7 linked regions of the Homo sapiens genome follow. The gene in region 1 interacts genetically with each later gene. Each region holds a gene or a part of one and is shown in the gene's direction. Other genes may lie near its edges. The genes, in order: ARFGAP2, MAN1B1, TRAPPC13, SEC23IP, MAN2A1, SEC24B and FUT8.

Region 1 (3,500 bases):
GCCACGGTGCCCGGCTTTCTTTTTTCTTTTCTTTTCTTTTTTTTTTTTTTTTTTTTGAGATGGAGTCTTGCTCTGTCACCCAGGCTGGAGTTCAGTGGTGTGATCTCAGCCCACTGCAGCCTCCGCCTCCCAGATTCAAGCAATTCTCCTGCCTCAGCCTCCTGAGAAGCTGTGATTACAGGCATGTGCCACCATGCCCAGCTTATTTTTGTATTTTAGTAGAGATGGGGTTTCACCATGTTGCCCAGGCTGGTGTAAAACTACTAGCTTCAAATGATCTGCCCGCCTCGGCCTCCCACAGTACTGGGATTACCGGTGTGAGCCACGGCGCCCAGTGCTTGGATTACGGGCGTGAGCCACATCCAGCCAGAGCATAACATTTTAACTTGAAAGGACATTGGGTCTCCCTCCTTTCCCTGCTTCAGTCACATAGGAATGACTGGGTTAATAGATGACTGGGTTAAGGGATGACCAAGGGGTTAAGGCATATGAACAGTTTTTTAGCAGTGCAACAATTGTTTACTTAAACCCAACTCACCCTATTTATTTATTTGAGACAGAGTTTCAATCTCGTTGCCTAGGCTGGAGTGCAATGGTGTGATCTCAGCTCACCACAACCTCCGCCTCCGGGGTTCAAGCTATTCTCTTGCCTCAGCCTCCACACCTGGCTAATTTTGTATTTTTAGTAGAGACAGGGTTTCTCCGTCTTGGTCAGGCTGGTCTCGAACTCCCGACCTCAGGTGATCCGGCTGCCTCGGCCTCCCAAAGTGCTGGGATTACAGGTGTGAGCCACCATGCCCGGCCCAACTCAGCCCTATTGCAAAATAATCACTCCTTGGGGTTCTTCTAGCTAAAAGCTATAGATATTTTTTAATGAATTGATTTAAATCAAATTAGTCCTTAAAGTGTCCTTGTGGAGCCTGACAGAGGAATGAGAGGCATCAAGAGTTGTATTGTATTGCCTGCCAACCCTAGACCCCTTTTCTTTGAGAAACGAGACAGCAATTCTAGGTCTTAGTGCATAAGGCCAGTCTTTGTGCTTTGAGGTGCTTTTTTTTTTCTCTCTGAGACGGAGCCTCGCTCTGTTGCCCAGACTGGAGTGCAGTGGTGCGATCTCGGCTCACTGCAAGCTCCGCCCCCCAAGTTCACGTCATTCTCCTGCCTCAGCCTCCCAAGTAGCTGGGACTACAGGCACCTGCCACCATGCCCGGCTAATTTTTTTGTATTTTTAGTAGAGACGGGGTTTCACCATGTTAGCCAGGATGGTCTCGATCTCCTGACCTCGTGATCTGCCCGCCTCGGCCTCCCAAAGTGCTGGAATTACAGGTGTGAGCCACGGTGCCTGGCTTTTTTTTTTTTTAATAAAGAGTAGGATGATGAAGAACTCATTCTTTGATGCAGTTATGTTCATTTCCCTGGTGCTGGGGCATTTCTTCATCCATTCCTTTGCTTTGTGAACCCCATCAGTGAAGGATGGGGTTCATAGTGCACAAGGTAGGGAGTTGTTCAGGACAGAGACCACTGGCATCTGGTGCACAATATTAAAATTACAACACGAGCCAGGCACAGTGGCTCACGCCTATAATCCTGGCACTTTTGGAGGCCAAGGCGGGTGGATTGTCTGTACTCAGGAGTTTGAGACCAGGCTGGGCAATGTGGCGAAACCCTGTCTCTACTGAAAAAACACAAAAAATCAGCTGGGTGTGGTGACGTGCACTGTAGTCCCAGCTGCTCGGGAGGCTGAGGCACAAGAATCGCTTGAACCTGGGAGGTGGTGGTTGCAGTGAGCCAAGATTGCACCACTGGACTCCAGCCTGGGCGACAGAGTGAGAATCTGTCTCAAATAAATAAATAAAATTAAATTATAACAGGCAAACCGTCACTGGCCAGGGAACTCCTACGTGGAATAAACAAAGCTGATGTGTAAAGAATTCTGAGGTGTGCTTCACAGGTCACCACACACAGCTAGCCTTCTGTTGGGGTCTGGCCCAGCCCTGTGCTTGGGTAAGGACAGAAGGCTCTGGGTGACGCTCCGTGAAGGAGAACCCAGTTGCTGGGCATTGTCTCTTGTGCGGTGATGCTGATGCCTATCCTTTGGTCTCATGCCTGGCTCTGCTTTGCTGCGCAGCTCTGTCTCCCACTCCGTGCTGTCTGAGATGCAGGTGATTGAGCAGGAAACCCCAGTGAGTGCAAAATCCTCTCGCTCGCAGCTGGACTTGTTTGACGATGTTGGTACTTTCGCCTCTGGACCCCCAAAGTAAGGCTGTTTTCTAGCTGTAAACTTGGCTGCTGTGTTCCTCATCAGGCTTCTCTGAGCCACTCTACTGTCTCCCTAGGTACAAGGACAATCCCTTTTCCTTAGGGGAAAGCTTTGGCTCCCGCTGGGATACAGATGCTGCCTGGGGTATGGACAGGGTAGAGGAGAAGGAGCCAGAAGTGACCATCTCAAGCATCCGGCCTATTTCAGAAAGGTAGAGTGGGCTGTTTTTTCTTTTTTCTTTCTTTTTTTTTTTTAAACAAGCTGAAGGTAGAGAATTCTAAGGCAGCACTGTCTAGAAGAACTTTCTGTGTTGATGGGAATGTTCTCTGTGTTGTTTAATATGGTAGCCACTACTATGTGGCTATGAGCCCTTAAAATGTGGTTGGTGCAACTGAGCAACAATTTCTGATGTAGTTTAATTTCTGATAAACGTAAATAGCCACCAGTGGCTGGTGCCTGCCTCATTAGACAGGGCAGCAGTCAGGCTTCGGTTTGAGTTGTGCTTTGTCATCATAGAGGGCCTGGCAGCTTCTTTTGCTTGGGGTCCATTTCTCTGGCCGGAGGAGCCTGATTGTATGCTTCAGTCCTGACCTCCTTTCAGGGGTTTTATGTCTCCAGCCCCCTTCTTATTTTTTAAAACCCTACTCCATCTTAATCTGGGATCTGTTTAGTTGACATAATATCTGTGAGTTATCCCCGTATAAAATGGGAACGTAACTACTTCATAGGGTCTCCGGAAATACCTGGCCCAGTGTCCACATACTCAGCGTGAGATGAGAGCAACCATCTCCCTTTCCACACCAGGATGCTTTTGAGAGTAAAGGGGGCAGTTTGCTATTCATAGTTATGACAAGAGTAGGTATAAAGCCAGGCAGACCGACACATATGCTCATTGTAGTACTAGGCAAGTTGTCACTAGGATTAGGGTAGCAGCAGTTGTGTGGCCTCCTGAATGCTGACGAAGCTGTGTGCTTTTGGGCAGGAGCCTAGGCCACTGCAGGCTGTATTTCCACCCTGCCTAGTGCAGGTTCCTAAGCTCTCTGGGCCTTGGCCTCAATGTGGAGAAGGGTGACTCCTCACCAGGGGAGAGGGGCCCAGAGCCACAGAGCCACAGACAGAATGGGACCTGGTAACCCATCACCAAAAGGCCACTGGTGCTCTGTTTGGCCTCTGTACTCTGCCTCCCCTGATGATAATGGGAGGAGTCCGAGATATTCCACATCTTCCCCTCAGAGCCACA
Region 2 (3,500 bases), on another chromosome or scaffold:
TTGTGTCCTCTGGAAACGTTGGAAGAAGGGGCCAGGCCTAGTCCTGGGCACCACCAGGCTGAGAAGATTGGGGTCAGGGAGGAGGGCAGGGGGAGTGGAGACTGGGGATGGGTCAGGAGGCAGCTGGAGAACCAGGAAAACGTCCTGTCAGTGAAGGTTTGGTTCAGGAAGAACAGCCAAATCCCCGACACCGTTGAGAACACCAGGGTGGTGCTGACTCTGGTGTGGCTGCTCGGAACCCTTAGAAGGCCCTTAGGGTGTTAGTTACTGTTGTTGGTACATCTGTGATTGTGTCTAGCAGGTGTGGGAGTGCCTTGGGAGCTTCACCTGTGGCCAGAGTCCTCAGCGCCAGGTGGACTTCCCTGCAGGGCTGTGACAGGGACAGACAGCGCTTTCTAACAGTGGCCTTGGGAGTGGTAACCTGCCGAGGAACAGCTCCTGGGCTGGGGAGCTGGAGGCAGGCTGCTGCCCACTGGCTAAGGATCTCAGCAAGAGGGGCATTGGGGCATTGGCCCCCATGAGCTTGGGCCACCCTCAGACTGCCGTGGGGGTGTTTTGATTTTTTTTTTTTTCGAGGCGGAATCTCACTCTGTCGCCCAGGCTGGAGTGCAGTGGTGTGATCTCAGCTCACTGCAACCTCCGCCTCCCGGGTTCAAGTGATTCTCCTGCCTCAGCTTCCCGAGTAGCTGGGATTACAGGCGCCCGACACCACGCACAGCTAACGTTTGTATTTTTAATAGAGACGTGTTTCACTATGTTGGTCAGGCTGGTCTCGAACTCCTGACCTCTTGATCTGCCCACCTCAGCCCCCCAAAGTGCTGGGATTACAGACATGAGCCACCATGCCCGGCCCTTTGATTTCTTTAACAAGAAAATGTGTCCTTTTAAAATTTCTATAAGCTCAATAGAGAGGGGATGGACAGTACCAAAAAGCAGAAGGAAGCAAACCCACATTCTCCTTTCAAAGGCAGCATTCCTGTCGCTGAGCAGCTTCTCCAAGGGTGGTCTAGCCGGGCAGAGGGTGTAGGGTGGGAATTGGCCCCTAGAAGGTGCCGTGCCTGATGGGAGAGTCCTGCTCTTGATTGGCCATGGGGCCACTGCTCCACACTCTTCGGTGTGAGGATTTCTGCCTTTGACCAAGGTCTTTGTCTACAAATTGAATTTTCCTGACTGGAAAGCCGACAGGTGCTTCCTTTCCTTCTTTGGTCCTTCGTCTCCTTTGCATATGGAGTATCGTAACTGCCTGAGAGCAGACTGTGGTATTTTTTCCATTGAAAGATGTGTTTCCACCACTCACAAGTGACCCATAAGCCAGCACCTAGTGTCCAGGAGCAGCTGGGGTGGTGGATGGTGAATATTTCTGTCTTTCTCAAGCATTGACTTGGAGACATCCTGCCCTCCAGGGATCACTTGCACTGCCTCTCCTGTTCAGACCCTGGCACTTGTCTAGACCTGGTTAGGGATGAGGCTGTGTTTAGGCCAGATCCCTTTCTGTTAACGTTTTACTTTGGTTGAGTTCAAATTTTTTTGTTTTATATTTTTTTTTTTTTTTTTTTTTTTGAGACAGAGTCTTCCTCTGTTTCCCAGGCTGCAGTGCAGTAGCGCAATCTCAGGTCACTGCAAGCTCCACCTCCCGGGTTCATGCCATTCTCCTGCCTTGGCCTCCTGAGTAGCTAGGACTACAGGTGCCCGCCACCACGCCCGGCTAATTTTTTGTATTTTTAGTAGAGACGGGGTTTCACCGTGTTAGCCAGGATGGTCTTGATCACCTGACCTCGTGATCTGCCCGCCTCAGCCTCCCAAAGTGCTGGGATTACAGGCGTGAGCCACCACGCCCGGCCTTAAAATTATTTAATAGAGATGAGGTCTCACTATGTTGCCCAGACTGGTCTCCAACTCCTGAGCTGAAGTGATCCTCCTGCCTCAGTCTCCTGAAATGCTGGGATCACAGGCATAAGACACCACACCTGTCTGATTTCAAATGTTATAGGGGCTTAGGAGAGAAAATGGGAACATTGAGAAGGTATAAAGGGGAATACACAGCCACACATTACCCCTGTTCCCAGTCCAACTCTTGAAACACTTGGTATATGTCTTTCAATTTATGTGGCTGGGTATGGTGGCTCACACCTGTAATCCCAGCACTTTCAGAGGCCAAGGCAGGCAGATTGCTTACGCCCAGTCTGGGTAACACGGTGAGACCACCATCTCTACCAAAAAAAAAAAAAATTAGCCAGGCACGACATGCCTATAGTCCCAGCTACCTGGGAGGCTGAGGTGGGAGGATCGCTTAAGCCAGGGAGGTTGAGGCTACAGTGAGCTATGATCCAGCCTGGATGACAGGGAGACCCTGTCTCAAAAAATAATAATAATAATTTTATTTGGATAAACACATGTATACATCATTGAGGGTTAGGGGCTGGATTGGTATTTGGATACACACGTGTGTACGTAATTGAGGGTTAGGGGCTGGATTGGTCCCTGTTTCTTTTTTTATGCACATGAGAATATTCCCTTTCATACAGATTTTTATAGCTCTTCTCCATTGCTTGGATAAACCATCATTTTCTAAATCATTTATCTGTTGATTCTTTCTTCATTTGTAAATGTCCCCATTACATCCGTTGTACGTAAACTATTAAGAGTTAAAGGTTGTGAAGATTTTGATGTCCTATGACGTGTATCATGACAAACTATTCCCGAATTTGCTTCCCCTGCTACGGTGCTGAGAGTAGCAGTCAGTGGTGCCATGGCAGCACTGGGCATTCTCGTGTCGGCAATGTTTCCAATGCAACAGTCAGAAACTGGCGCCTGCTTTTCGTGGATGCTTGTGTGTCTTGCCTAGAAGCAGGGACACTTACAGGAGGGGAGAGGTGATGAACGGCCCTATGTGCTCCCATCCCGGAAGCTGTCCGTGTCCTTTGATGAGTCTTAGGACTTTTATATTTTCCTTTATTATTGGTATTCCCTTTATTATTAGTATGACTGTTGTGAGTTAGAATATTTCATCCTTTACCAAGTATGCTTCTTATGACTTCATCCGGCTTAGAAATTAGTTTTAGAGAACTTTGCTATATAGTAGCAGTAATCAATTAGAAAATGTTATTGAAAAGAGATCTCAGGAGGTTGCAGTGGCTCACACCTGTAGTCCCAGCACTTTGGGAGGCCGAGGCAGGCGGATCACTTGAGGTTTGAGGTCAGGAGTTTGAGACCAGCCTGGCCAACATGGTGAAACCCCATCTCTACTAAAAATACACAAATTAGCCAGGCGTGGTGGTGCGCACCTGTAATCCCAGCTACTCAGCAGGCTGAGGCCTGAACTGGGAGGTGGAGGCTGCAGCAAGCGGAGTTCGCACCACTGCATTCCAGCCTGGGTGATAGTGAGACTCAGTCTCGAAAAAGAAAAGAAAAGTGATCTCCATCACAATCACAAGAAAAGAATGCCACCAAGTCCGTAGGAGTAATCCTGATACTAAAATATATAAAGTCAGTATAAATAA
Region 3 (3,500 bases), on another chromosome or scaffold:
TTTCCAGTTTTTCTATAATGAATGCATATTGTATTTACATTTAATTTTTATAATTCATAGGTTGTAAATAAATGGTGCTTATTTTGTAACATTACAATTCTTAATAAATCACTGATGTGTGATAACCTTAGGAAGTATGTAGTATTATATTTAGGAAGTATTTAGGTTATATTTTATGTTAGTATAAAATGGATGAATGTCATACACTAGACTTGAGAATATTAACCCTAAGCAGTATTAATGTTTTGTTTTCTTTTACTTTTTTACTTCACAGTGATGCGGCTGACTAAGCCTACTTTATTCACCAATATCCCAGTAACATGTGAAGAGAAAGACTTACCTGGTATGGCACATGCTTTCCTCTATTTGCACCTAGGGAAAGGTTGAAACCTGAATTGCCTGCATTACCTTGGACTAAGCCTAGCCCTGTAAATTTTATGCTAACCATTTGCTGGATTCTTTGTTGCCTATTTTTGTATCATGTGAAAGGTGGCCATCTGAGTAACAGGCCTTACTTATACTCTACAAGTCCAAATTATGTTGATATCCTATGGCAGTATGAGACAGTTTAAGATACATTCATATTCATAATACTATTAAAATTGCCTTTATCCTCAAATGTTGCATCAATGTATGTATTAGCATTCCCTTTTTTTTTTAAGAATTATTGGGGCTTTCTCTAGTATATTTTCTATCTCATGACGTACATTTTTCTTTGTTTCTAAAGTTTCCATTCCCTGTGAGATCAGAATTTTTTTGACATGCTTTGTTGTATTAAAATCTAGAAGTTAGACTTTTTAAATATCATCTTTGTCAAGAGGTTGTTTTTTAAAATATCTCTCCCAGCTATTTCTTTATATAAGTAAAAGTTATTTAAAGGGTAGATGTTAGAATTTTATGTTTTTCTCTTCATTCAGGAGATCTCTTTAACCAGCTGATGAGAGATGATCCTTCAACCGTTAATGGTGCAGAAGTTTTAATGTTGGGAGAAATGCTGACTTTACCACAGAATTTTGGGTAAGAATGACATATTCACATAAGAAACCTTGTAAAGCCATTACAAATTATGTTTTCAAAACAGAACCATGGGATGGGGAAATGCTCATGATACATTTACCTTTTTTTTTTTTTTTCTGAGATGGAGTCTCGCTCTATTGCCCAGGCTGGAGTACAGTGGTGCCATTTGAGCTCAGTGCAACCTCCACCTCCTGGGTTCAAGCAATTCTCGTGCCTCAGCCTTCCGAGTAGCTGGGATTACAGGCGTGCGCACCGCTCTGGCTAATTTTTGTGTTTTTATTGGAGACCGTGTTTTGCTATGTTAGCCAGGCTGACCTTGAACTCCTGACATCAGGTGATCCACCCGCCTCAGCCTCCCAAAGTGCTTGGATTGCAGGCATGAGCCACCACGCCTAGGACATGATACATTTGAGGGGCAAAAATATTATTAAAAAATCATACTATGTGATTATGGCTTTCTGTTATTAAAAAAAAAAGATATATACCAAAATAAAATGTTAATAGTGGTTCCTAGCATAATAGAATTTTAACTTTCTTCTTTAGATCTTACTATATTTTGTAATGGCCACATAGTCTTTTAACTACTAATGTAAACATCTTTTTCAGAAGCCAGTCTTTGTTTTTTTGCATCATAGTCCTCTCCCAAAATGAGTTATCAGACTTGTCAGCTAATTAGGAACTCTAAATTTATTTCTTCTGTTATCCTTAGCTGTATTATTATTCTAGATTAATAATAAGGTAGAAGCCCCTGGTTCCACTCTGTTTGCAACAGACAGAATTTGAGACAAAAAGAAATTTTACAGATTGTTTTTATAGTTTTACAGAATGTGGTCATTGACTAGTGTCTTGAAAAACTGGGAAATATATTCATGTAAAAAGTATAAAACTAAAATAAAACCACTGGTGATTTTTATTCAAGTAACCTAGGAAATAAAATAAATTGGTAAAAATACCCCAATATCAGTAACTTAGATCTCTTCTAGATTCAGGGAATAAGTTATTTCAAGAATGGAAACTTGGCTCTCTCTAACCTATTCAGATACAAATCCTAAGACTTTAGCATAGGTCTAATTTCAATGAGTCTTATCTCTAGTGAGGTTGGCATTTTGTACAGTAGTCAAAGGCCAAGATATATCATGTTCTATAGATTACGTCTGTATTTTGAATTGCACTAGGTAATGAATGAGTGGCCTAGTGTGAACAAAGGAATGTTGAAGCAGTATTTCACCAGATTTCTATCCTTCAGTAAATGTTTCTCCATTTGAAGTTCTTAGTGATTCTCAAACAGATTATTTAATGTAAAACCTGATGGGCACAGTGGCTCACGCCTGTAATCCCAGCACTTTGAGAGACTGAGGCGGGCGGATCATGAGATCAGGAGATCGAGACCATCATGGCTAACATGGTGAAACCCCGTCTCTACTAAAAATACAAAAAATTAGCTAGGCGTGGTGGTGGGTGCCTGTAGTCTCAGCTACTCGGGAGGCTGAGGCAGGAGAATGGGGTGAACATGGGAGGCGGAGTTTGCAGTGAGCCTAGATCGTGCCACTGCACTCCAGCCTGGGTGACAGAGCGAGACTCTGTCTCAAAAAAAAAAAAAAAGAAAAAAAACCTGAATGGATTTCTGCCTAAATACTTATTTTATTTTACAGGAATATATTTTTGGGAGAGACCTTTTCCAGTTATATCAGCGTTCATAATGATAGCAATCAAGTTGTAAAAGACATATTAGTAAAAGTAAGTAACATTCTTACTTGGGATGTATTTTAGTCTTTAACAAAGGTTTTTTTTTAGGCCGGGCATGGTGGCTCATGCCTGTAATCCTAGCACTTTAGGAGGCTGAAGCAGGTGGATCACCTGAGGTCAGGAGTTCAAGACCAGCCTGGCCAACATGGTGAAACCCCATCTCTACTAAAAATACAAAAATTAGCCAGGTGTGGTGGTGCACACCTGTAGTCCCAGCTACTCGGGAGGCTAAGGCAGGAGAGGCTAAGGCTTGAACCCGGGAGGTGAAGGTTGCAGTGAGCCAAGATCACGCCACTGCACTCCAGCCTGGGTGACAGAGTTAGACTCCATCTCAAAAAAAAAAAAAAGAAAAAAAGGTTTTTTTATATCTATTATGTTTTTGGCACTTCATTAAATGCACGTTTGATACAATAATTTTTAATTGTCATTAACAAGCACTAATGAATGCCTACAGTTATAAAGTATTATGTTAGGCATGAAAACATTTTTCCTATTCCACAAGATTTGTGATTGCTTGGGTGAGAAAATGTACTAGTCAAAGCTAAATAGCAGTTTAGTATTTGTTAATGTATGTCATTAACATGGAAGATGAAAGATCACTGGAGATTATGTCAATCTGGAAGGTTTCTTGGGGGAGAGGGAATGCGAAGAGGATCTTGAAAGAATGGGAGGATACAGATAACAAGGCAAGGGAGACATGGTAATCAGAGGCAGAGACATAGTGGTACACATGTGTT
Region 4 (3,500 bases), on another chromosome or scaffold:
TGTGATCGTGTCACAGCACTTTAGCCTGGGCAACAGAGCAAGACCTTGTCTCAGAAAAAAAAAAAAAAAAAAGAAACGGAGCTAAACATTATGTTCATGTAGGCACTATCATAAAAGATGTCAATTCTTCCCAAATTATCAGATAAATTTTAGGCAATCCCAATCAAAATTCACATCAGGGTTTTTTTTTTTTTTTGGTAAAATTTGCAAGCTGCTTCTAAATTTTTTGTGGAAGATCAAAATGTCAAGGATAACCAAGACCATTTCGACAATGAAATGTGAAATCTTTACCAGATAATACTTACTATAAAGCTGTGGATTGAAAGGGAATATGAAGAAGTGAAAATAATTTATTTATTTATTTTTTAAACAGGATCTCACTGTCCCCCAGGGTGGAGTGCAGTGGCGTGATTTCAGCTCACTGTAACCTCAGCCTCCTGGGTTCAAGCGATTCTCCTGCCTCAGCCTTCCGAGTTGCTGGGATTACAGGCGCCTGTCACCATGCCCAGCTAATTTTTGTATTTTTAGTAGAGACAGGGTTTCACCATGTTGGCCAGGATGGTCTCGAATTCCTGACCTCAGGTGGTCCACCCACCTCGGCCTCCCAGAGTGCTAGGATTACATGCGTGAGCCACCACACGTGGCCTGAAAATAATTTTTAAGGTGGTGAAAGTTTTCTTTCTTTAATCCTTGTTGTTTGTGGCCTTGCTTTTAGAAATTATGAATTATATTTGAAGTTTTTTTTTTTTTTAAATCGAAGAGGAGGGTCAGAAGTACAAAAGACTAGGCTGGGCATGGTGACTCACGCCTGTAATCCCAGCACTTTGGAGGCCGAGGCGGGCTGATTGCTTGAGATTAGGATTTCGAGACCAGTCTGGCCAACGTGGTAAAACCCTGTCTCTACTAAAAATACAAAATTAGCCAGGTATGGTTATGCACGCCTGTAATCCCAGCTACTCAGGAGGCTGAGGCAGGAGTATCTCTTGAACCTGGGAGGCGGAGGTTGCGGTGAGCTGAGATCACGCCATTGCACTCCAACCTGGGTGACAGAGTGAGACTCCATCTCAAAAAAAAAAAGTACGGAAGACTGATGAAGAGGAATTGTTACTGTTACTCAATGATTGTCCAAGAAACAGAAGGAAATACTTCTATTTTCACGTGATTGTCAAATACTCACTGTTACTAGTTTTAAAAAAAAGACTTTGTAACAATTTTTACTTGTCAATTAAAAAAATAAATGAACAAAAAAAAGGACTTGTGGATATGCCAGAGGCTCCCTCTTACTTTGTGTTGAATCTCTCCCCAAGAGGTCCTCACGCTTGTTCTTTATAGAAACTAGAATAGTACGATCGGCCCTCCGTATCCACAGGTTCCGTATCTGCAGATTCAACCAAATACTCTGAAAATATTTAGAAAACCACAACAATAAAAATAACACAGGCTGGGCACCGTAGCTCACGCCTGTAATCCCAGCACTTTGGGAGGCTGAGGTGGACGGATCATCTGAGGTCAGGAGTTCGAGACCAGCGTGGCCAATATGGTGATACCTTGTCTCTACTAAAAATAGAAAAATTAGCCAGATGTAGTGGCTCATTGCCTGTAGTGCCAGTTACTCGGGAGGCTGAGGCAGGAGAATCGCCTGAACCTGGGAGGCGGAGGTTGCGGTGAGCAGAGATTGCACCACTGTACTCCAGACTGGGCAACAGAGCAAGACTCTGTCTCAAGAAAATAAAAAATAAAAATTACAGTTTAACTATTGATATCACATCTACATTTCATGAGGTATTATAAGTAATCTAGAGAAGATTTAAAGTATAAGGGAGGATGTATGTAGGTTTTATGCAAAAATAATGCTATTTTATATAAAGGACTTGAACACCAGGGATTTTGGTATCTTTGAGGGGTCTTGGATCCAGTGCCCTGCAGAAACCAAAGAAAGACTATATCTGGAGGAAGAGTAAGAAGATGGTTGGACAGTGAAGATTTTGGAGTCAGAAAGTCCTGGGTGATATTACTCCAGCCCACATGAAAAAAAAGAAAAAGTCAGTCCTGGGTGGCAATGAACTACAGTTCTCCCATTGCTGCTTCCCAGTTGTGTCATCTTGTGCAACTGTATACAGTACTTAAAATGTCTATTATGGGTTGAATTGTGTCTCCCCATCCCCCAAATATGTTGAATTACTAATCCCCAGTGTCTCAGAATGTGACCTTATTTGGAAATAGGGTCATTGCAGATGTAATTAGTTAAGGTGAGGTTTTACTGGAATAGGATGGGCCCCAAAGCCAATATAACTTGTGATGTGAAGACAGACACACAGAAAGAATCCCATATGATGATGGAGGCAAAGGCTGGAGTTACACTGCAAGCCAAGGAAAGCCAGAGATTGCCAGCCACCACCAGAAGCTAGGAAGAGGGAAGGAGGATTTCTTTATAGCTTTCAGAGGAACGGTGGCCTGCCTTCCTGGCACCTAATTTTCTACTTGGAGCCTCCAGAACTATGGGATGATACATTTTTTTTCTAAGTCACTCTGTTTGTGATACTTTGTTAATGCAGCCCTAGGAAATGAACAGACCATCTAAAACTTGGTTTTCTTCATTATATAATGGGGATCCTGTTACTTAGGCGTGATTGAGAGTAATTACTTCAATGGTATGTGTAAGGTGATAAAAAATATGTTAACCAGTCAGGAAATGAGAACTGCTATTACTGTTATTTTTATCACCATTATAGTGACCGTTTTCCTCCATACTTTCTCTCCATGTGGTATAAATTTGTCATGTTGGAATATATGTTGTTTCCCCCATTATAGGCTGAATATAAAAAAGCTGTAACCACTAATCAGTGGCACCGAAGATTAGAGTTTCCAAGTGGAGAGACAATTGTTATGCACAATCCAAAGGTAATGATGGTGTTCAAAATTTTAAGGTATTAAGTTCATTTTAATATTTTTCTGTGTATGTTTGATAAATTGTTCATTTTTAGTAACTTCTACAGTGGGAATGTTTTTGTAACAAGTGCATTGCTTTTAAAATACTTTATTATTATAGTGGATAATACAGATATTATTTCTATGATTCACACTGATCATAGAAACAAAAACACAAATTTTTCGTAGGGCGAGGTGCACACCTGTGAGAGGCTGAGACAGGTGGAATGCTTGAGCCAGGGGGACAGCAGAACCCTGTCTCTATAAAAAATAGAAAAATTAGCTGGGTGTAGTGGCACATGCCTGTAGTCCCAGCTACTCAAGAGGCTGAGGTGGGAGGATTACTTGAGCCCGAGAGGTTGAGGCTGCAGTGAGTCAGGATTGCTCCCCGCTGCACTCTAGTAGCCTGGGTGACAGAGCAAGACCTCGTCTCAAAATAAAAAGTAAATTTTTCTCAGGCTGGGTGTGGTGGCTCACACCTGTAATCCCAGCGCTTTGGGAAGCCAAAGTGGGAAGATTGCTTTAGGCTAGGAGTTTGAGACCAGCCTGGGAAACAAAGAGACTCTGTCTCT
Region 5 (3,500 bases), on another chromosome or scaffold:
CAATAGCTTCTGCAGTATCAATTTAAATGATACATCAAGCTGGTAAATGTGAGCTGGCCTACCAAGTGAAAGCATAACTAAATTTAAATAGCTCTGATATAAAAATAATGAATCAGTACATCAAAGATTAAGAATGCAGTTAGCAAAAATTAATGTTCAATAAAGAAGCATGTGTGACTTTTAAGTTAGATGGTATGTCATTCAATGACCAGATAAGGACTAAGTTCAGGTGCAGTTTATTCAACTGATGTGTGTGTTTGAAAAATAAGACGAAAACATAATGCTTTATTTGAATAAACTTTAATAAAACAATATATAATGTATGGACATAAGGAAACCTAAGTCCTCGGGGATTATAGGGGAAACCAAGGCATGAGGTTACCTAACAAGGAACCTTAGAACATAATCTTACCTGGCTCAGTACAAGTAGGAGAGAATGGTAGCAGGTGAATGGGCAGTGAGCATGGACCTGAGGAGAAATGAATTTGCCTAACTTTCTTGCTAAATAAATGTGCTTTTGGATGCTGACATCGAGAGAGTGGTGTGTGAAGTACCATAAATATTTGCTTTATTGTCTGCGCGGTGTGACTGCATTCTGCTCATTTGCAGGTGGGCAATGGGCACTCCAATGAGGCAGCCTTGATCCTCCACAGAAAAGGGTTTGATTGTCGGTTCTCTAGCAAAGGCACAGGGCTGTTTTGTTCTACTACTCAGGGAAAGGTAAGTTGAAAAGGTTATTTTTGCTTACTGTTAGTGTGCTTTGAAATCCTCTTTCTGCAAAGGATCTTGACAATAAGATCATGTTTCATTGCTTCTTTACTGTCTCAGTTTCATCAGTCTGCAAATTAGTTTGAATCTCCCCATCTGAAAAATGCACTTTCTCAAAACTTCAGCCTCCTTTCCTTGTTGACATCAAAAGGCATAGCTGGAATTTATGCACATTTGAAGGCAATGCTCTTGTTATTTCCTAGGCCTTCTATTTCCAGCCTACAAAGTGCCTTGCTCCCAGTCCCCCAGTTTTCTCCTCCCCTGAACCACACATGCTCACATATCATCTAGTTCAGCATTGGTAAACCTAAGTCCTACAGAGGCCAAGGCAAGTTTATAATAACTGAAGCTTATAGAGGTAGCCATAAAGAAGCAACTGGGAAAATTGAGACTGTAGGCTAGTGGGATAATCCACCCACAGCCCAGGAGGCAGCTGTACGTAGCGCCAATCAGTTGTTTTCCCTTGGGAAATAAATGTAGGTCTTGGTCTTCTGATTAATGCAGATTTGCATATGAGTCAACACACCGTGCAGGCCAAACAGATCCTCAGTCTGAACACAGCTTGCTGGCTGCCTATTGTTTATTTCTCTTCAAGTTGGTCTTTCTGGCAGTTCCATCAAGCCTGTCCTTGAAAGGAAACAAACCTCCAATCTCCTGCCTCTGTCACTGAAAGGGCCATGACTCAGAGAAGGCAGCTGGGCTGATTTAGGTACACAGGCAGGTCTGCCTCACCAGGCAGCTCAGCTGACCCAGCTTTCCTCCAAAACCTCATAAATAATGCTGTAGACCAGACTCAAGTGATTCAGTTCCAACCCTACAAATTAGCATGTGTGTGGGGTCCAAAAAGATAAGAAAAATGTGGTAGGAGCCCTGAACCTACTTAGATAGATTAGCTTCTACATTTCTTTTACCCTACCCTGCTTGGAGCTGGTGCCAAGAAAGCACTGATATTTTTATTACTTTTTTATTATACTGTATTTGCACTCTATTGTATTGTTGATGATCTAAGTTTACTTGGTTCTGAGCATTCTGACATTAAGGCCTTGAGTCATAAGGGGGTTATACGATCCAGAGAGACAGATAACATGGCAGCGGTGAGGGAAATACTTTCCAAATGACCTGTCCACCTCTATAGACTGGGACTCAATGACATAATGATCCCTCCTTGTAGTGAGCCTGTGTGCTCTCTCTTAACTCTGTTGGAACAGGAAAAAGTGGTTGAGGACTACCATTGTTAGGGGTAAGTATTGACTAAAAGAGAATGAGGATGTTTTTAAAGCTTCTTGGCCATTGGAGGTCCTTTCTTTTATTGAAAAAGCCCCTGTGCATGATAAAATTCTCAAGCAATACAAAAAGGAATGCAGAATATGTTGCTCATGACCATTACTGGTTTCCTGTTCCCTTCCAAGCGTAGTCTGTATGTTCAAGCATGTATATATGTATATTTAATTCACCCTTTTTTCTGTAAAAGAGAACTTATATATGTATATTTAATAACATATATGTATATTTAATCCACCCTTTTTTCCTCAAAAGAGAACTTCAACATACTGTTTTATTCCTTCTCATACTAATTTTCACAGAATATGTAGTTGTGCTGCTAATCTTCAAAGTTGATCTAAATATGTAAATTTTATCATTTACTTTTCAGATATTGGTACAGAAACTTTTAAACAAGTTTATTGTCGAAAGTCTCACACCTTCATCACTATCCTTGATGCATTCACCTCCCGGCACTCAGAATATAAGTGAGATCAACTTGAGTCCAATGGAAATCAGCACATTCCGAATCCAGTTGAGGTGAACCTGACTTTCACATTTGGATTGAGAATCATTGGCTTTTATACCTTTCTTGGTTTGACGTGCAATAAAGAAGCACATTATTTTAGCTTCTGGCTACTGTGAGAACATGAATTCTGTGATTCTGTGGGTTTTTTCTTTTTTCTTTTACCAGTACAGTAAGAAAAAAAAAAAAAAAAAAAAAGCCATGCTATCAATCAAGATTCTTTTTTTTTAAACTTTCTCCCATGAACTACCACCATCAGTATGAATTGATGCAACAAATGAAGAAATATTTAAAGACAGCCTCTCAACAGATTGTATCTCAGGTTAAATGCTAACTAATTATGTCTGTGTTGGGGGTTGCGAAGAGATTCTTAAAAGTATCTGTGTGTTGATCATCAGTTTTACAAAAACACCTATTTGGCTGAAATGGAATAAAATGTTTGTGGGTAAAAGCTAATGGCCAAAATGGTTGCAATCATTCATACTAGTTAGAAAAATTATGTGTTGAAATAAGTGGAAAAGTGCAATCCATCCACCCTTATGATTAACGTAGATGATTTTTATACCTTTTTCTGATGTACCTCTTGACCTTCTCCTTCCCTTCCTACCCTTTCTAAGTATTTCCAGAAATACCTGATTTTGAATCATTCAACAGTAGAAAAAGAGGCATATTTTCATTACTTGACAATGTGGGATGGGTGCAATTTATTCCATCTTCACTAAAATAGAAGCAATTCCATAGGTACCATAAACCTATTTTAGGTACCACAAGGTGTCTTTTTACACAGCTCATTTGAATACAGGTGTTCTGAGAAGGGGTTTCTATTTTAAAATTACCATATCAAAATAAATGTGCCTTATTTTTTTATAAGTCTTGTTAAATCAGTGTCCATATTACTGTTTGGGGAAGGGGGAATGTTGTGGGGTCTGGGAGAGGGTGGGTACTT
Region 6 (3,500 bases), on another chromosome or scaffold:
TGGGTTGCTGAACATGTGGAGATGCTGGGAGGGTGGCGGCACCTGCCCCCATCCTTTGCCCTGTACATCTCTTTCATTTGGCTGTTCATCTGTATCCTTTGTAATATCCTTTATAATAAACAATAAATTTAAATGTTTTCCTGACTTCCACAAGCCCTTCTACCAAAGTAATTGAACCTAAGGAGGGGGTAGTAGAAACTCCAGTTTGTAACTGGTTCCTCAGAAGTACAGATGGCAACCTGCTACTTGTGATACTTATGATAGGCATCTGAAGTGGGGAGCCATCTTGTGGGACTGAACCCTTAATCTGTGGGATCCGAGTCTAACTTCAGGTAGGTAGTGTCAGAATTGAATTGAGTTGGAGGACCCCCAGTTGGTGTCTGTTGGGGAAAAATAAAAACAAAAATTCACACATCTGGTCACAGAAGTGGTCTGTGCAGAATGAGAGTAGAGTGAAAGAAGTTTTTTGTTTTTTATTGTTTGTTTTAGAGACAGGGTGTCACTCTGCCACCCAGGCTGGAGTCAGTGACTCCATCATAGCTAACTGCAGCCTCAACCTCCTGGGCTCAAGTGATCCTCCTGCCTCAGCTTCCCAAGTAGCTAGGACTATAGGCATGCACTACCACTCCTGGCTAATTATTTTTATTTTTATTTTTGTAGAGACTGAGTCTCACCATGTTGCCCAGGCTGTTCTCTAACTCCTGGCCTCAAGTGATCGTCCTGGCTAGACCTACCAAAGTCTTGCGATTATAGGTGTGAGCCACTGGGCTGGGCCCTGTTTTTTCTTTTACAAGTGGTTAGCAAATGGCAAACTTTTTTTGTTTGTTTGAGACGGAGTCTCGCTGTGTCGCCCAGGCTGGAGTGCAGTGGCACGATCTCAGCTCACTGCAACCTCCACCTCCTGGGTTCAAGCGATTCTCCTGCCTCAGCCTGCTGAGTAGCTGGGCCTACAGGCGCACACCACCACTCCTGGGTAATTTTTGTATTTTTAGTAGAGATGGAGTTTCACCATGTTGGCCAGGATGGTCTCCATCTCCTGACCTTGTGATCCACCTGCCTCGGCCTCCCAGAGTGCTCGGATTACAGACGTGAGCCACCGTGCCTGGCCCACAAACGTTTTTTAAGATTTGTTTTTCCAAAGGATATTGTATATAGATCCCTGATAGAGAAATCAGAAAAAAGCAAAGTGGTTGCGGTTAAAATAGAAGTAGAAGTTCAGTTGTTTTTAAGCACAGTTTGAAAAACACATAGTTTGGATCCCTACCTTTACAGATGAAATGAAGATTCAGAAAGGTTAAGTAGGTACATTTTCTACCAATTCTGTGAAAGCTTTGTGAGGGTGGCAGTTTTTTCTGTCTCTTGTTCACGTTGTATAATAAGAGCCTAGAACAGTATAGGCAAGTTACAGGTATTCATTAGACATGTATTAAATGAAGTCCATTTTATTTTTGCTAATTCCAACTCTAGATCTCTTCTTAAAACTTTTTGTCTGTTTGTTTATTTATTTATTTATTTTAGAGACAGAATCTCACTCTGTCACCCAAGCTGGAGTACAGTGTTGCCATCATAGCTCACTGCAGCCTTGAACTCCTGGGCTCAAGCAGTCTTCCCACCATGGCTTCCTGAGTAGCTGGGACTATAGGTGTGTGACACCATACCCAGCTAACTTTTAAAAAAAAATTTGTAGAGACTGATCTCAAACTCCTGGCTTCAAGTGATCCTCCCATCTAGACTTCCCAAAGTGCTGGGATTACAGGCATGAGCCACCATGCCCAGCCTAAAGATCTCTTTCTGTTAACAGACTCTAAGAAAATTCTTTTTAGAAACTTTGATGTTTGAGAAGAAAGGAATAGAGAGGCAGAAAACCTAGTCTTCATGATCACTTTTACTTGTTTTCTAGGTGTAACTGCTAGCATGTTTCCTCCACTTATTCGAAGATACAGCTTGACTTGATTTCAAGTCTGTGAAATCTTTCTCTTAAGCTTCCTTCCTTGGTGTTGTATTTCTATCCTTCATTTTTCATTGAGCAATATATGGATTTTTAAAACTATTTGTATTTCCATACCAAGCATTAATTGAATATTTCTTACCTTTTACTCTGCCTTTTGGGATTCCTTCCAAAGCTGAGTCCTCAAACGTAGGAAGACTGACTAAAGTAATAGCCTGGTAATGAACTTGTTGGGAGGTGAGGGGATGGGGCAGTCAGATTTAATAATAAGCTGCTGCTTTTTAATTTTACTTTTAGGAAGCAAATGGTGTTCATTTTCAAATGAAAGTATATTTTAATCCTTCCATATGCCCTTTTCCAGAATGAAACTACAGTTTTATCACTTTAATTGTTAATAATGCAAGAAAGATGAGATAGTAATGGGAATTACTAGAACTCACTATGGAAGATGTAAATAAACATACCATTCATACAGCAGTACTATCGGGTCAGTCACTGGAAACCCTTAAACTTTGAGGGCACATGCAGCATTTAAAATGATATAAATCTCCCTAGTGTATCTCAAATAAGTTCCTTTTGATCAGAGCCACATCAGTGTCTCAGGTTTCTAGTCTCCATTTATAGCTAACCGGAAGCATCAGGTCCTCTCATGAATATACCCCTGTGGTATTAAAGTGACTGTGTCTGAATACATAATTTCCTCCTAAGCTGATTTTTTTTTTTTTTTTTTTTTTTTTTTTTTTTTTTTTTTTTTTTTGAGACTGAGTTTCAGTCTTGTTGACCAGGCTGGAATACAATGGCACAATCTCAGCTCACTGCAACCTCCGCCTCCCGGGTTCAAGCGATTCTCCTGCTCAGCCTCCCGAGTAGCTGGGATTACAGGCATGCGCCACCATGCCTGGCTAATTTTGTATTTTTAGTAGAGACAGGGTTTCACTATATTGATCAGGCTGGTCTTGAACTGCTGACCTCAGATGATCCACCCGCCTTAGCCTCCCAAAGTGCTGGGATTACAGGCGTGAGCCACTGAGCCTGGCTCTAAGCTGATTGATAGATATCTCAAAGATCTTAAAGTAGGCCGAGCATGGTGGCTTACGCCTGTAATCCAAGCACTTTGGGAGGCTGAGGCGGGCGGATCACTTGAGGTCAGGAGTTTGAGACCAGCCTGGACGACAGGATGAAACCCGTCTCTACTAAAAATACAAAAATTAGCCAGGCGTGGTGGCAGGTGCCTGTAATCCCAGCTACTCGGGAGGCTGAGGCAGGAGAATCACTTGAACCTGGGAGGTGGAGGTCGTGGTGAGCCAAGATTGTGCCATTGCACTCCAGCCTGGGGGACAAGAGCGAGACTTCGTCGCAAAAAAAAAAAAAAGATCTTAAAGTATTCACTCCATATGTAAACAAGGGTCTTATATCTGGGTTTAATTTTTATTTTTTATTGCTATATATATTGCTTTAGTTGTTTGCAGTGTCTTTTCACTCCCTTCCTCTCCCCCCAAGTTTCTGGGATTGTAGCAGTAATTAATTTTGTAAACCATATTCATTGCCACCA
Region 7 (3,500 bases), on another chromosome or scaffold:
TCCCTATGGCCACCACCACTACAAGCCCACAGGGATTATTGCCAGGCTACGGTTCATGTTCACTTAAGGCCCAAGGGCTCTTCAGTCAGCTTGTGGTGAATGTTGCCAGGCCTGGGACTTGCCCTTCAGGGCACTGGGCTCCCTTCTGGCCCAGGCAGGTCCAGGAGTGCCATACAAGAGCCAAGGTCTGGAATCAGGAACCCCAAGAGCCCACTTGGTGCTCTGTTCCACTGTGGCTGAGCTGTTATCCAAGTTGCAAGATAAAGTCCTCTTTACTCTTCCCTCTCTACTGCTCAAGTGGAAGGAAGGAGTCTCTTTTGGAGCTGTGAACTGCACTGCCTTAGATTAGGGAAAGGGTGGCATAAGCACTGCCTTAGCCACCTCAGCTGGTGGCTCACTAGGTTACGTGCCCCCTAGGTCCAATGACTCTCGAACCCAGCACAGCACTAAAACTTGCCTAGAAATTACAGTTCTTGTGGCCTAGACTGCCTTTCAAGTTCATTTAGGGCCCCAGGACACTTCAGCCTATAGTGGTGCGGCTTGTTGAAACTCAGGCTCCAACCGCTGGGATGGACATTTCCCCTCTGGCTAGGGCACATCTAAGTTCTCCCTCCATGGGCATTGGCTGAGTTCTTTGCTAATGGCCCGGGTGTTGCTTGCCAGTTGGCCTGGTGTTGCTTTCTGCTGTGACATGGTAACACTGAGTTCCAGTGCAAAGTCCCACAATCACTGTGCTCCCCCTCCCCCAAGCACACAGATTCTTTGCACCACACGGCCACTGCATGGGGGTGGAAGGGGTAGTAGACAATCGAAAACTGTCTTTCCTACTCTCTTCAGTGTCTCTTTCAGCAATATGAAGTTAAAATCAGGTACTGTGATCACTTACCTGATTTTTGGTTCTTGTGAAGGTGCTTTTTTGTGTAGATAGTTGTTAAATTTGGTGTTCCTGTGGTGGGGGCAGCGATTGGTTGAGGCTTCTATTCAGCCATCTTGCTTCATCTCCCTCCAATAGATTAAAAAAAAAAAAGATTTTAGAATTATCTAATTTTTTTCTTTAAAAGATGTAGATGATTGGCTTATAATTATAATCTTCAGGTGTTTCCAGAGTCATTGTGTTCTGTCATGAAAGTAATGCAAGAGCAATTTTGCTGTAATGAAAAGCTAGAAGTTTCGAGAACACTTTATTTTCTAATTCCAAAACAACAACAAAAAATAGAACTTTGCTAGCTGGCTGTGTCTACTGTCATTCTTTGATTAGATACTTTGAGTTCTGCATACCATGAGGTGTTGGTATGATAGCATGTTATGATAGAAACTTTTAGAAAAGACCAGAGACTTGAGAGATAGACTAACCTGCATGTGAAATTCACCTCCGTCACTTTTGCTCTGGTATTTCGAGCAAGTTATTTAACTTCCTTTGTAAAGTGAAGATTATACTTCTTTAGAGTTGCTGTGAGGATGAAAGCACTCAGAATAAGTTCTTGTTGAATGGTGGATGTATAAGGAATACCATGTGGTAATGATTATATGTTTCAATATTGTCAGGTGAAGTGAAGGACAAAAATGTTCAAGTGGTCGAGCTTCCCATTGTAGACAGTCTTCATCCCCGTCCTCCATATTTACCCTTGGCTGTACCAGAAGACCTCGCAGATCGACTTGTACGAGTGCATGGTGACCCTGCAGTGTGGTGGGTGTCTCAGTTTGTCAAATACTTGATCCGCCCACAGCCTTGGCTAGAAAAAGAAATAGAAGAAGCCACCAAGAAGCTTGGCTTCAAACATCCAGTTATTGGGTAAGAATCTGATTTTTTCCCTCAAACTGTGATATGTAGTAGTTAGGGTTATGTATCTTTACAATATATTGTGAATTTTACAATATGTAGTTCAATTTTTATAGTCCCACCAAAGGACAGAGGTTCTAGAGCTATCCTAAGGTCACATGGAGACTATTTTTTTTTGTTTGTTTACTTAGAACAGCTAAGAAAGTTGCTTAGTAGTGCTCTATTACTGTCTCCAGTTCTCCTCTTCCTTTGCTTCTTTCTCCTCTTATCACAGCTCTCTTTTGGCTTTTGTTGTTGTTATTTTTGAGATAGGGTCTCACTCTGTCACCCAGGCTGAAGTGTAGTGGCTCACTGCAGCCTCAACCACCCTGGGCTCAAGTGATCCTCCTACCTCAGCCTCCCAAGTATAATAGCTGGGTCTAAAGGCATGTATCACCATGTCCAGCTTCTTTTTATTTTTATTTTCATATTTCCCACCCCACATCTTTCCTTGTGTCTTAGTCTTCATATGTAGAGGAGTTATTGACCCCATTCTAAGTGTTAGACGTAAAGAAGGTACATGTGAAGTCAGAATATCAAATCGTATTTCTTCTCATGTAACTTTTGATTGAAATTCAATGGAATCATTCGTTCTGCCCACTTCATCTCTATAGAGCCCACTGAACAATTCCAATTTCCCCAGAAAAAGAGTGATTATGAAGGATGTGGGAAGGAAAGATGATAGAATAGATGTTCATATGATTGTATCCACATCTGGGTTATAGTCTGGAATGCAAAGCAAAGAATAGCCGTGAAGATGGCAGAGTAACTCTGGTGAAATCAAACCTTCACTCCAGATTCATAATAAAAAACTGGCCTTAAGTTTGGCCCATATACTGTGACCTAAAGGCGTATAAGTCTACCTTTTTCTACATATAAATAGTGATTTAGTAATTTGGGGGGAGGGGAAGGCAAGATTTAAGGAGGGTGTTTTAATTTATGAAAATAAACTGTTATTTTTATTTCCATTAATATTGCTTTGGGGCCAGGCATAGTGGCTCATGCCTGTAATCACAACACTGGGAGGCTGAGGCAAGTGGATCACTTGAGCCCAGAAGTTTGAGAAAACTCAACATAGGCAACATGGTTGAAACCCCATCAATTAAAAAAAAAAAAAAAAGCAAAAATTAGCCAGGCTTGGTGACACATGCCTGTAGTACCAGCTGTTCGGGAGGCTGAGGTGAGAGGATCACTTGAGCCTGGGAGGCAGAGATTGGAGTGAACCATAATCACGCCACTGCACTCCAATGTGTGCAACAGAGCAAGACCTTGTCTTAAAAAAAAAAAAATTACTTTGGAAACACTAAGATGGGAGGAGAGAGGAGAAAACTGTGGAAGTCAGTGCCTTATTCAGTACAGGGAAGTGTGAATCTGTGTCCCCAATTTTACAATTTTGGGGCTTTTCTTAAATATGACAGGTGAAATTAATATCTGCTGTCATTTGATATGGTGAAAAACAGAGAAAGGAAATGCATTATGCCCACAACAGAAGGGCTGGAATCGGTTTCATTTACCTAAAATAGTAAAAACCGTTAAAAGGTTTGCTGGTCTTAACGGTGCTGTAAAAGTTTATCCAGGTCTATGTTTTCCTGGGACAACTTTTAAGTTCTACAAGCTGGCAGTTATGGTGACTCTCCAGGGTAAAATAAAGAGGAAAACCCTTGGTATCAGAACTTTACAA

The links.
Region 2: changes in ARFGAP2 (region 1) and MAN1B1 together harm fitness less than expected from each alone (positive genetic interaction), as found in Homo sapiens cells (one large-scale study listed by BioGRID).
Region 3: changes in ARFGAP2 (region 1) and TRAPPC13 together harm fitness more than expected from each alone (negative genetic interaction), as found in Homo sapiens cells (one large-scale study listed by BioGRID).
Region 4: changes in ARFGAP2 (region 1) and SEC23IP together harm fitness more than expected from each alone (negative genetic interaction), as found in Homo sapiens cells (one large-scale study listed by BioGRID).
Region 5: changes in ARFGAP2 (region 1) and MAN2A1 together harm fitness less than expected from each alone (positive genetic interaction), as found in Homo sapiens cells (one large-scale study listed by BioGRID).
Region 6: changes in ARFGAP2 (region 1) and SEC24B together harm fitness more than expected from each alone (negative genetic interaction), as found in Homo sapiens cells (one large-scale study listed by BioGRID).
Region 7: changes in ARFGAP2 (region 1) and FUT8 together harm fitness less than expected from each alone (positive genetic interaction), as found in Homo sapiens cells (one large-scale study listed by BioGRID).

The regions. Positions count from the first base shown.
Region 1 is NC_000011.10:47,166,880-47,170,379, reverse strand, and holds part of ARFGAP2 (ADP-ribosylation factor GTPase-activating protein 2), read left to right. Parts: intron 1-2,128; coding exon 2,129-2,257; intron 2,258-2,336; coding exon 2,337-2,471; intron 2,472-3,493; coding exon 3,494-3,500.
Region 2 is NC_000009.12:137,089,985-137,093,484, forward strand, and holds part of MAN1B1 (endoplasmic reticulum mannosyl-oligosaccharide 1,2-alpha-mannosidase), read left to right. Parts: intron 1-3,500. UniProt on the Homo sapiens protein: Involved in glycoprotein quality control targeting of misfolded glycoproteins for degradation.
Region 3 is NC_000005.10:65,635,027-65,638,526, forward strand, and holds part of TRAPPC13 (trafficking protein particle complex subunit 13), read left to right. Parts: intron 1-274; coding exon 275-343; intron 344-917; coding exon 918-1,017; intron 1,018-2,669; coding exon 2,670-2,754; intron 2,755-3,500.
Region 4 is NC_000010.11:119,906,230-119,909,729, forward strand, and holds part of SEC23IP (SEC23-interacting protein), read left to right. Parts: intron 1-2,811; coding exon 2,812-2,901; intron 2,902-3,500. UniProt on the Homo sapiens protein: Plays a role in the organization of endoplasmic reticulum exit sites. Specifically binds to phosphatidylinositol 3-phosphate (PI(3)P), phosphatidylinositol 4-phosphate (PI(4)P) and phosphatidylinositol 5-phosphate (PI(5)P).
Region 5 is NC_000005.10:109,864,427-109,867,926, forward strand, and holds part of MAN2A1 (alpha-mannosidase 2), read left to right. Parts: intron 1-609; coding exon 610-720; intron 721-2,419; coding exon 2,420-2,572; 3' UTR 2,573-3,500. UniProt on the Homo sapiens protein: Catalyzes the first committed step in the biosynthesis of complex N-glycans. It controls conversion of high mannose to complex N-glycans; the final hydrolytic step in the N-glycan maturation pathway.
Region 6 is NC_000004.12:109,436,815-109,440,314, forward strand, and holds part of SEC24B (protein transport protein Sec24B), read left to right. Parts: intron 1-3,500. UniProt on the Homo sapiens protein: Component of the coat protein complex II (COPII) which promotes the formation of transport vesicles from the endoplasmic reticulum (ER).
Region 7 is NC_000014.9:65,720,230-65,723,729, forward strand, and holds part of FUT8 (alpha-(1,6)-fucosyltransferase), read left to right. Parts: intron 1-1,545; coding exon 1,546-1,792; intron 1,793-3,500. UniProt on the Homo sapiens protein: Catalyzes the addition of fucose in alpha 1-6 linkage to the first GlcNAc residue, next to the peptide chains in N-glycans.